Linked DNA regions of Homo sapiens: all the other regions are linked to region 3. The links come from fine-mapping of genetic effects on gene expression. A gene starts in region 3. Each other region holds a variant in brackets. All regions are shown on one strand. Distances are from middle to middle.

The links.
Region 1: its variant is fine-mapped to the expression of STIM2 in whole blood (TOPMed, PIP 0.92).
Region 2: its variant is fine-mapped to the expression of STIM2 in whole blood (TOPMed, PIP 0.98).
Region 4: its variant is fine-mapped to the expression of STIM2 in lung (TOPMed, PIP above 0.99). The same link has a PIP of 0.9 or more in visceral fat.

The regions. Positions count from the first base shown.
Region 1 is chr4:26,886,446-26,888,945 of GRCh38, reverse strand. All of the region lies in intron 1 of STIM2 (stromal interaction molecule 2), which reads right to left. Among named protein-coding and RNA genes, the nearest start is that of STIM2, 27 kb to the right of the region's middle. The variant G/A (reference allele first, on the strand shown) is at 1,514.
Region 2 is chr4:26,934,491-26,936,990 of GRCh38, reverse strand. The region is part of intron 2 of STIM2 (stromal interaction molecule 2); the gene reads right to left. Among named protein-coding and RNA genes, the nearest start is that of STIM2, 75 kb to the right of the region's middle. The variant C/T (reference allele first, on the strand shown) is at 1,428.
Region 3 is chr4:26,859,125-26,861,886 of GRCh38, reverse strand. It overlaps STIM2 (stromal interaction molecule 2), which reads right to left and starts at 1,046. Exons shown (of 12, transcript NM_020860.4): 1 at 518-1,046. The coding sequence starts at 668. It overlaps STIM2-AS1 (STIM2 antisense RNA 1), which reads left to right and starts at 1,288. Exons shown (of 2, transcript NR_134674.1): 1 at 1,288-1,377; 2 at 1,859-2,263. RefSeq lists silencers at 350-919, 930-1,299 and an enhancer at 1,390-1,489.
Region 4 is chr4:26,825,209-26,827,972 of GRCh38, reverse strand. It overlaps a transcript of TBC1D19 not described here. Among named protein-coding and RNA genes, the nearest start is that of STIM2-AS1, 34 kb to the left of the region's middle. The variant G/A (reference allele first, on the strand shown) is at 1,157.

The sequences.
Region 1 (2,500 bases), 27 kb before region 3:
GAATGAACAGGCAAAGAAGACCCAGGGTTAGTGTACTGACCAGGGTTGCTGGTTACTAAGAAGAAATTCAACTGCTACCATACAATGGAGGTATGAAAGACTAAGTCCAGAATACGAGAGATCTTGTAATTACTTTCACGCTCTGTGATTAAAAGACTAAGTCCGGAATACAAGAGATCTTGTAATTACTGCCATGCTCTGTGATTAAAGTCAATGGAAAACTACAATAACCCAATTTAAGGACTACTTAAATTGGGTATGCCCAGACCCTTCAGGAACAAAGTTTTGGATCACCCCAACAGGCAAAGAACCACAAAGAGCTAAGGTGCTTGCTAAGGGAAAGGGAAAAATGGAATGGATAGTGCAAGAAGGTAATCATAAACAAAAACCAGCTACGACCATGTGACCAGCCACAGAAAACTGTAACTGTTATGTCTTATTTTGTAACGAATGTATTCAAATATTTAGCAAATATCTTTGTTTTCTTGCTCTTTAATCCCTTTATCATCTGACATAAGATATATTAATAATAGCTAACTTTACATCATGATATTTAAGTTATAGCTTATTAGGGAGAATGAACATTACCCAGGGACTCCGCATCCTCTTCTGGGGAAAGGGTTGGCATGTTTTCAGTTGTTTGAAGGATATTCATATTATGTTAGGCAGAAGTATGACTTTGTTATTGCGTTCATTTGGAGATTAAGTATCATTTAAGAAGATGTGTATGGGCGCCAAGTTGACAAGGATGGACTATGACAGTTTTATGTATCAACTTGTCTAAACTATAGTATCCAGTTATTCAATCAAACACTAACCTGGGTGCTACTGTGATGGTATTTTGTAAACACAGTTAACATCTACAATCAGTTGACTTTAAGCAAAGGAAATTATTCTTGGAAATGTGGGTGGGCCTGATCCAATCAGCAGGAAAGCCTTTTCTGAGAAAGAAATATTCTGCCCCACGACTGCAGCATCATCGCCTGCCCAAGAGTTTCCAATCTGCCAGCCTATCCTATGGATTTTGGATTTGGATTTGGATCTTTTCAATTACCTCAGCCAATTCCTTGAAATAAGTCTCTATGTTTTACCTATGTCTATCTATGTAGATATGTAGATACATGTATAAAACAATTAATTATTTTAAGTTACATCTTTGAGTATTTTAAGTGCAACTAAATAATTGGTAATATAATTACAGATATGCACTATATAAAATTATATTATTAATTTGTAATAATGAACATATACATTCATTCCTTCTGGTTCTATTTCTGTACAGAACCCTAATACAGGGTCTTTTAAAACATTAAGAGAAAAAATAGCCACTCTTTGCTTCAAAGGATACATCTAGAACCCAAAGAAAGTACTGAAAGATTTTAGTTTAATGCAACAAAGAACTTCTCACAAACCAGAACTGCCTACTAATGGAAAAGTTGTTCAGGAGCAATAAGTTCCCAACCACCCAAAGTATCTGAGGAGCTAATGAATGACAGTCTATAAGGGATACACC[G/A]GAGAAGTTCCTGTAATTAGCAGACAGTTTGAGCTTTAGGCTTTGTCCACTTCCTTGAGTTCAATCAAAGTCTGTAATTCTGTAACAGCACGGTGTGATCTTAGATTATTAGCAAGATACATCTTAACCCAAGTAGAAAATGAAAGCAACATCAAACAAAACAGTAAAGAAAAAAAGCTCAAATAAATTCTAAGTTTTAAAGGGATCACGGACAAGGCAAGAGGCAAAAAAAAAAAAAAAAAAAAAAAAGTTTAATTATTTGGTTTGGTGCTTATTGTATCTTGTAACATTCAGCAGTTGAACACTACGGGTTGTTCCAATTTCCTAGCTCTTTAAATTATATCCTATAAAGGCATAAGCTTTTATGTCTTTACTTCACAATAAAGTTCATATAACAATGAACTTGATTTTCAGGACAACAGAACAGAAGGGCTTTCACTGTATTTAGCATCCACATATAGCTCCACCTATACCACCTATTACCACCTCCATAGCTAACAAGGGAGCTCTAGCACTTTCTCTCCCCGGACAAAAGCCTACTAATTGGTCTCCCTGCTCTAAGACTAGACCTTCTAGAGTGTCATTTCAGTGAAAGAGCTGAAGTGATCATTTCCAAACATAAATCAAATCATGTCACACTTCTCAAAAACCCTGCAGTAGCTCCCCATCTCAGAGTACATGACATACAATGACAATGTCCTCACATCTTGTAGATGATGTCTACAAGACTGTACATTCTAGCCCAGACAACCTCTCTGATCTATCTATTACTCTCTCCATTGCTTACTCTACACCAGCCCTGTGGTCTCCTGGAAGTTTCTCCAAAAATCCAACAATGGTATCCATCAGGGCCCATGCACATGCCATTCTCTCCACCTGAAGGGTCTCATCCCTCTGTCTCTCCCTTCTCTCTTGTCAAATGTCAACTATGAAGATTTCCCTGACCACCTTAAATAACAGCAAACACACATATACTTTCCCTAACAT
Region 2 (2,500 bases), 75 kb before region 3:
ACGCTGGAACCCCATCTCTACAAAAAATATAAAAATTAGCCAGGCATGGTGGCTCATGACTGTATCCCAGCTACTTGGAAGGCTGAGGTGGGAGGATGCCTGGAGTCCAGGAGGTCAAGGCTGTGGTGAGTCATGTTCACGCCACTGAACTCCAGCCTGGGTGACAGAGCGACATGCTGTCTCAAACAAAAAAGGCAAAAGGCACTGGGTTGAATGTTTCGATGCTCCATACTATGAAATGATTTCAGAAGTTTTTGGTTCTTCATACACAGATCTCATACTACAGTCAGTTATTCTCAGTTTATAAGTAGGTTGCATTTAAGAGTATGTATCCACTAAGTGAAGCATATCTTTCCACAGAAACTATGTTATGGTGTTTAACTTCCTAGTTCACAAAATCCTATTTAATCTGTATATAACTGAACTATATACAACCAATGGTGTTTCTCAAATGGCCTATGACTAAGACAGCCTCAGCAAGAGGGAACCCCCAATAATAAATCAGAACTCAAGCATAGAGATTAGATAGTCTGGATGATAAGAAACAGTAGAATAAGAGAAAGCTGTTTTCTATTGTGGTTGCTTTGAGGGACAAGCAGATACATGACCACAAATGCTCTGGGAGGATCAGCTCTTATCAAATGTCATAAACAAAAAGATAACTCAACAGCAGTTGGTAAATGAACTGGAAAAGCAAGAGACAGAGAAGAAACTCCAGTAAATAGGTTACTATAATTGTCAGGACATAAGGACATAAGTACTAAACTAAATAAATGCTGGGACCAGGTAGAAGTTTCACAATTTAAGTAAGAAATATTCTAATATAAAATCATCAGATGTTTTCTTAAAATCTGTCTCAATAACTTGCACAATGATTCTTAACCATCTAGGTTACAGAACCATCTTACTTTAAAAACCAAAAGATCCTCCCCCACATAAAAAAGACAAATACAACCCTGCTTTATAGTAACTGAATGTCAATGACTTCCTATAAAACATACAAAGAAATTTTTAAGGTTGAACTTGGCAAAAGTAAAGTCACAAAATACAGGAGCAGAAAACAAGGTATCTTGCAAGAGCATCACAGTAGTATTTATATTTATAAATATTGTGCCTGAGATTAAAAGAACTGTAAAAATATAATGCAAAACTTTAAGATTTATCAAGGTACAAAGAGTAAGTCATGAACCATATTTTCAAAGACCTAATCATAAAAAAAGTAAGATTTGTAACTATACTGTCTACTCATAAAAGGTCAAGATAAAGAGCTTCTGGCTACTATCAGAGTCCTGAAAGTCTAGTGGTTCTCAAACTTCATCAGAATCACCCAGAGGATTTGTTAAAACGGATTGCTAGGTCCCATCCCCAAGCTGCTGATTCAGTAGGGTTGGGGTGGGGCTCAAGAATTTGCATTTCTAACAAGTTTT[C/T]ATGTTAAGTTAATACTGCTTGTCAAGGGAGCATCAATTTATTTACTCCTTAGAGCAATTTCTTGGAACTACACCAACTCCATTTTCATCTACTTCTTTCCCTCCTTTCTCACTCTGTAAGCTAAATGAGAAGTATTAGGGTGGCCCTAACCTTTTTCTATTTAATATCTTGCTTCTAAAAGATGTATAGAGTGCCTATCTCATTTTGAATAATTTAAACTATAGTTACATATACGTAAACAAAGAAGAGGTAACCAAAATGACAAACAAGTATGTAATGCTCAGCACGCTTTGGTGAGTTGCTGAAGACCAAAATACCTTACACATACCCTATAAGATGACTTCCACCTACATAAGAATCTTTCTTCCAGATTCCTAATCAATGGCGTCCAAAATCATTACTTCCTGGGTCTCTTCAGATCAACAGACATCCACAATCCAGATATAAATTAAATTTTAAAATAGAATTTGCAGCTAAAATATAAAGACATAGTGGCAAATTTATAGGAAAAGATATTTTAAAAAGTTTAATCATGTCTTCCCTTATCAAAATGATATCTACACTTTCTGCCTCACTCATTCTCTGCTTTTTTTCCCTAAACTAGTATAAATAAGTGAACTTTGTTCTTTTTTTTTTTTTTTTTTTTTTTGAGATGGAGTTTCGCTCTTATTGCCCAGGCTGTAGTTCAATGGCGCGATCTCGGCTCACTACAACCTCCACCTCCCGGGTTCAAGTGATTCTCCTGCCTCAGCCTCCTGAGTAGCTGGGATTGCAGGCATGTGCCAATATGCCCATCTAATTTTGTATTTTGTGTAGAGACAGGGTTTCTCCATGTTGGTCAGGCTGGTCTCAAACTCCTGACCTCAGGAGATTCACCCACCTCGGCCTCCCGAAGTGCTGGGACTGCAGGCATGAGCCACCGCGCCTAGCCTTGTTCTATTCTTATATTACCACTTCTTACAGGTATCACAAGTATCAGAACTAATTTTAATCATAAAATGCACAGTGGACATCATTAAAAGGTCAGCAACTAATGTGCTATATGATGAAGAAACCTGCAAACAGTGGCCAT
Region 3 (2,762 bases):
CACTAGGTATTATGGCTCTCAAAGAATCCCCTTTAGCAGGCTCCCCTGGGACGCTGTGCTCAAGCGGAGCTTTGAACCGGTGAGACTCGCTGCCAGCTGCCTTTGCAAAAGCAGCACCAGAGGTAGACTCAATACCGCAATGCTGCTGCTGACTTTTTCTAGCAGCCTCAAAAAAAAAAAAAAAAAAAAAATCAGCCCAGTCCCCTGCAGACCCTGCTGGCACTTCTGCAGCACGAAAGAGAAACCACCGCATTGCTCAGCTTGGAAGATCGGAGAGCCCGACTGAAGGGAGGGGAATCAGTGCCGTCGAGAGGCTCGGCGAGGGCGGGGTGTCGGGGTGAAAAGGAAAGACGTCCGGAGTGCAGGGGACCGCGACGAAGCAGCAGGCAGGGCTCCGCATCGCGCCCTGGCCGGAGCCGCGGAATAGCGGACGTCCGGCGGAGATGCTGACCTCTGCACGGGTTGGGGGTCCCATCGCTGCCGGCCGAGCCCCGCCCGCCGCCCCCCGGCCCCTCACCTGTCATGAGCGCCGGGCTATCGCCGGCCGCCGCGGCGGGAGAGGAGGCGGCAGTTGCGGCAGAGCCAGTCGCCCGCCGCCCGCGGAGGTGCCGGGGCACAAGCTCGCATCCGTCCGCCGCTCCGGCTACCAGCAGCCCGAGCACCAGCAACGCAGCCCAGCGCCGCCGCCGCAGCAGCCAGCCCCACGCTGGGCCAGGAGTCGAGGCGGGATGAAGGCGCCGAGGAGAAGCCGGGTGAAAGCGCAGCGGCGCCCCGGCCGCCTGCAGCTCGCCGGCTCCGCGAGGCGCCACCACCGCCGCCGGCGACTCCTCCGGCCGCCCCCGCCGCCTCAGACACGGGCTCCCGCCGGGCGCCAGCCTGGTCCCATCGGCACCGGCGGCCTCCGGAGCTCTGATCCCGGCTGCGTTCATTGGTTCCGGTTATTTAAAAAAAAAAAAAAAAAAGGTGGGGGGTAGAAAGGTACGGCGTCTTCAGGCGGTGCACGACACCCGCGCTGCTGCTGCGGCGAGACCGGGATCCGCTGCTCTGGCGCCGCCAAACACCAACCCCAGCTCCCGCGCCGCCGCCGCCGCGGCGCATCCCCCCGCCCCCTCCGGCCCGCGCTGGTCGTAGTACCACGCTCCGCCGGGACGCCTCCCTCCCCTCGCACATTCGCTCGCATACCAATCCCCCGCCTCCCTCAGGCTCTCCACGGCGCAGGCGCGGCGCTGCTGTACTGCGCGTGCGCGGCATCCCAGCCCCGCCCCGGAGGCGTTCCTAGACGGACGGTAGTACCGTGGGGCGGCTGATAACGCTTTAGCGAGCCGCGAAGATAGGAGGCGGGGAAGAAGGGGGACGTGTACCTCTCCCTCATTCACGGTACCACCGCGAGGGGGAGTGGGGGGCTACAAGGGGACGGAGAGAAGAGTCCAGACGTCCCACATCCTGAGGGCGAGTTTCAGCCTCGTAGAGGGCAGCGAAAGTAATTGCATGGATCAGGAAAATCTTGCAATCGGAAAACAGCAGCGTCCCCGTAATTTCAATATAGGTGGGGCTTACAAGTGGCTGGCTGTTTAGACGCGGTTAGCATAGCTTAGCGTTTTATTTACTTGCCAAACATTTCACAAAGCGCGTGCTATGTGTGAGTGTACCAGGCATTGCTCTAACCGTTTTACACATTTACATGCTATAACTCCAAAATTATCGTTACCCCCTTTTACGAATGAAGAGACTAAGACCTAGAAATGTGAAGTAAGTTGTCCCCAATATCCCACAGCTAATTCATGGGAAATGAGCGAGATTTAGCAGCCACTGAAAAGGCCTATTTAAGAGAATTTACTTTAGCCTCTGACTCTCCTAGGTACATTTACCTGAACTCATCACCTTCCCACCCCCATCCCATCGACTCTGTGCTGTATCCTGAACCGGCTGACAGAACAATGATGTAGACTTGACTTGTTTTCGCCAACCTGGAATGAAGCAAAGCTCTTGTGCACCCAAGATCTGCTCTCTGTTGTAAATCCTGTTCAGACCTGGTCTAATTGGTTTGAATAAATAAAGAACCGGAATCTTTCTCATCCAAACTAGTTGCCAGCATATTTTTAAGGCCACCTCCCTTCAAATTTAAAAGGAAGTGTTGAATGTACTGTCACTATAAATTAAAAGCCCTGGAAATTCACACGCAAGGAGGCATTCTTTCTCCCAGGGGCACAAAATTGTTTAAAATTTGCAGATAGGGTTATTAAACACGAAGATCCTTTTGCTATTGGGTTTTGTTGGTTTCATTCTGCTTATTGGTTTGTTTGCTTGCTTTCTCAAGCCAAGAAGATACTCAAATTACATTCTCCTAAAGTATTTCTTAGGTAGCCTGGCCAAGATAACCACAAATATCGTTTATTGTGGAAGGGCAGATGCACACTTTAGAAAAGAATCAAGGATGTCTTTGAGGCTAAGTCAATCTATCAACAGTTATTTCTCAGCAGACTTCTTGTGGGCATAGTGTTCAGGTGGCAATTCTTTATAGGGCAACCGGGAGATTATATTTCCCCTGCTGAAAGGCACAGCGATGAAGTCACACCAGAGTGCTGAGTGCCCACCAGAGAAGATAATTCTGCTAGGGGACCAGAACAATATAAATAACAAGCTTGTTCCTGCTCTCCAGGAGGCATTTCATTTATTAAATGTTTACTGAGTACCTAGTATGTGCCAGGCAGAGTACTGAGTGGTGAGGGTTAGGCAAGAGAGACACTTGAAAAAGGCAATTA
Region 4 (2,764 bases), 34 kb after region 3:
AGAGGAACCATTTCAAAGCTATTTTAAGTATTTTCAGATATGGATTTGTCAGGTGGCCTACGTTAATCTCAAAGCCTAATAAAATAGCTGGGCACAGCGGCACACATGCCTGTATTCACACCTACCCAGGAAGCTGAGGCAGAAGGATTGCTTGAGCCCAGGAGTTCGAGGCTGCAGTGTGCATTATTGCACCTGTAAATAGGCACTGCATTCTAGCCTGAGTGTCATCGCAAGACCCTATCAAAAAAAAAAAAACAAAACAAAAAACAAAAAAAGAAAGCTCTAATAAATTGGTTCCATCCTCAAAAACATTTGCTTGAAGTTAGGGCTGAGTAGGTGAGTGCCAGCCTGATTTTGTTTTGTTTTGTTTTGAGACAGTCTTGCTCTCTCGCCCAGGCTGGAGTGCAGTAGTGCAATCTTGGCTCACTGCAACCTCTGCCTCCGAGATTCAAGCAATTCTCATGCCTCAGCCTCCTGCGTAGTTGGAACTGCAGGCGTCTGCCACCATGCCTGACTAATTTTTGTATTTTAGTAGAGACGAGGTTTCTCCATGTTGGCCAGGCTGGTCTTGAACTCCTGGCCTCAAGTGATCTGCCTCCCTTGGCCTCCCAAAATGATTGGATTGCAGGCGTGAGTCACTGTGCCTGCCAATGCCTGATGATTTTGACCCAAAGGATAGATTTGGTGATGAAGAAGAGAGATTCCTGAAACAGTAATACCTTTAAAGTTGGCTGTTTTAATTAAGTGAAGATGAAAATAAAGTGTTTTCCATCTTTATAAGCATTTGCCACTTACTGTGATTGAATTTGTGTTAAGGAGCCAGGAAAGGCTATGGAAGAGCAGTCTCCATCAGTTCACCAGAAGTATCATGGCAAGGCCAAGCTATCATGGTTAAAAGTTAATCATTAGTTTCCTTTCTCCATGATACGATTCAATAAACACATTAACAGTTTATAAAAGAGGTAGTGAAACCTCCTGAGGAAAAAAATATTATGTAACCAGTTTAGGGGAGAGACTTGCCTCGCCTCATATCTCAGTAGGGGGTTGAACTGCACGGCTGGGAGGTTCTTTCCGGTTTCATAACAGTTATTATTTCTGGAAGGGTTTATCTTTTATTGCTAATAGCACTTCACTTTCCTCCATGCTCTGAATCTAC[G/A]TCACCACCCACACCCGGAACCATTATAAACATCCACCCGCCACCGGGGCAGTAACCCTCATGAAGTTAAAACAGTAGTCTTTCCTGCTCGCCAACAGTTATAGACCTTGAAATGCCATTAGGCCAAACTTTACTGGACTCTATTCATTGTTAGGGTTGTGGAATATTGATCTAAACTCAATCTAACAAAATACACGCGGACATCATCTATAACAATGATTTTCAAAGAGAGAATTTTGAAAGGTATATTGGAGAGAGATGAGAAGCATTTTATGTTTGTAACAGCTCTAATATCTTAATAAGAATGATCTCTTTGTTTAGAATTTAAAACTTAGTAATAATGACACTTATTTTTCCCCCCTCTAAATAATGTTCACCTACTATGAGCAGACAGTAAGGGCACAAATATAAATCAACTTTAAACTGTTTGAAATATCCTTCTATTCATGATTATTGCTGTCACTGAATATGTATCCAGCAGCTGGGCAGGAATTCCCTGATACTAGAGTTAAACAATGGGCAGGCAGAATGCGAAGTCCTATGTGCAGTGGGAATTAAATTGTTCTTTTATTACAAAAATATGATCTTTGAATTTTTTTTTCACTTTTTATTTTTGAGACAAGGTCTCTTTCTGTCACCAAGGCTGGAGTGCAATGGCACGATCTCAGCTCACTGCAACTTCTGCCTCCTGGGTTCAAGCAATTCTCCTGTCTCAGCCTCCTGTGTAGCTGGGATTACAGGTGCATGCCACCAAGCCTGGCTAATTTTTGTATTTTTAGTAGAGATGGGGTTTCGCCATGTTGCCCAGGTTGGTCTTGAACTCCTGACCTCAAATGATTCGCCCGCCTAAGCCTCCCAAACTGCTGGGATTACAGGCGTGAGCCACCATGCCCGGCCAGCTTAGCTATTTTCATATGCCATTACTAATAGTTAATGTTTATTGCAGGCTTAACTTGGACCAGGCCCTGTTTCAATGGCCTTATTCATCCTACTGATATTATAACAATTCTATGAAGGAGATACTATTAACCCTGTTTTACAGTTGAGAAAAATGAGGCACAGAGATTTTTAAGTAATTTTTCTGATGTCACACAACTAAGTGGTAGGGCTGGGAGTTGCACCCAAAAGTCTGGCTCCAAACCCCTTTTACTTAACTAGTATAACCACACAATAGCACCTCTCAGATCATGCTACTTAACTAATTTGTGGCAGGTCACTGATAGAGAAAATTGGCAGCAAATCTTCAAAACAGTGAACAATGAGTGTTTCCAACCAAACTACATTCACTATGGCCTGGATTTTTTTCTTAATGTTGAAAAATTAAAGAAAATGTCATTGAAAAAATAAAAATTACTGACTAATGAGGCATGCCCTTATATACCTAGTTACTCCTGAAAGAAAAGTTTAAAAATCCTAAATCAGCCAGGCGTGGTGGCTCATGCCTGTAATCCCAGCACTTTGGGAGGCCAAGGCAGGCGGATCATGAGGTCAAGAGATTGAGACCATCCTGGCCAACTTGGTGAAACCCCATCTCTACTAAAGATACAAAAATTAGCTGGGCGTGGTGGTGTGCACCTGTAGTCCCAGCTACTCGGGAAACTGAGGCAG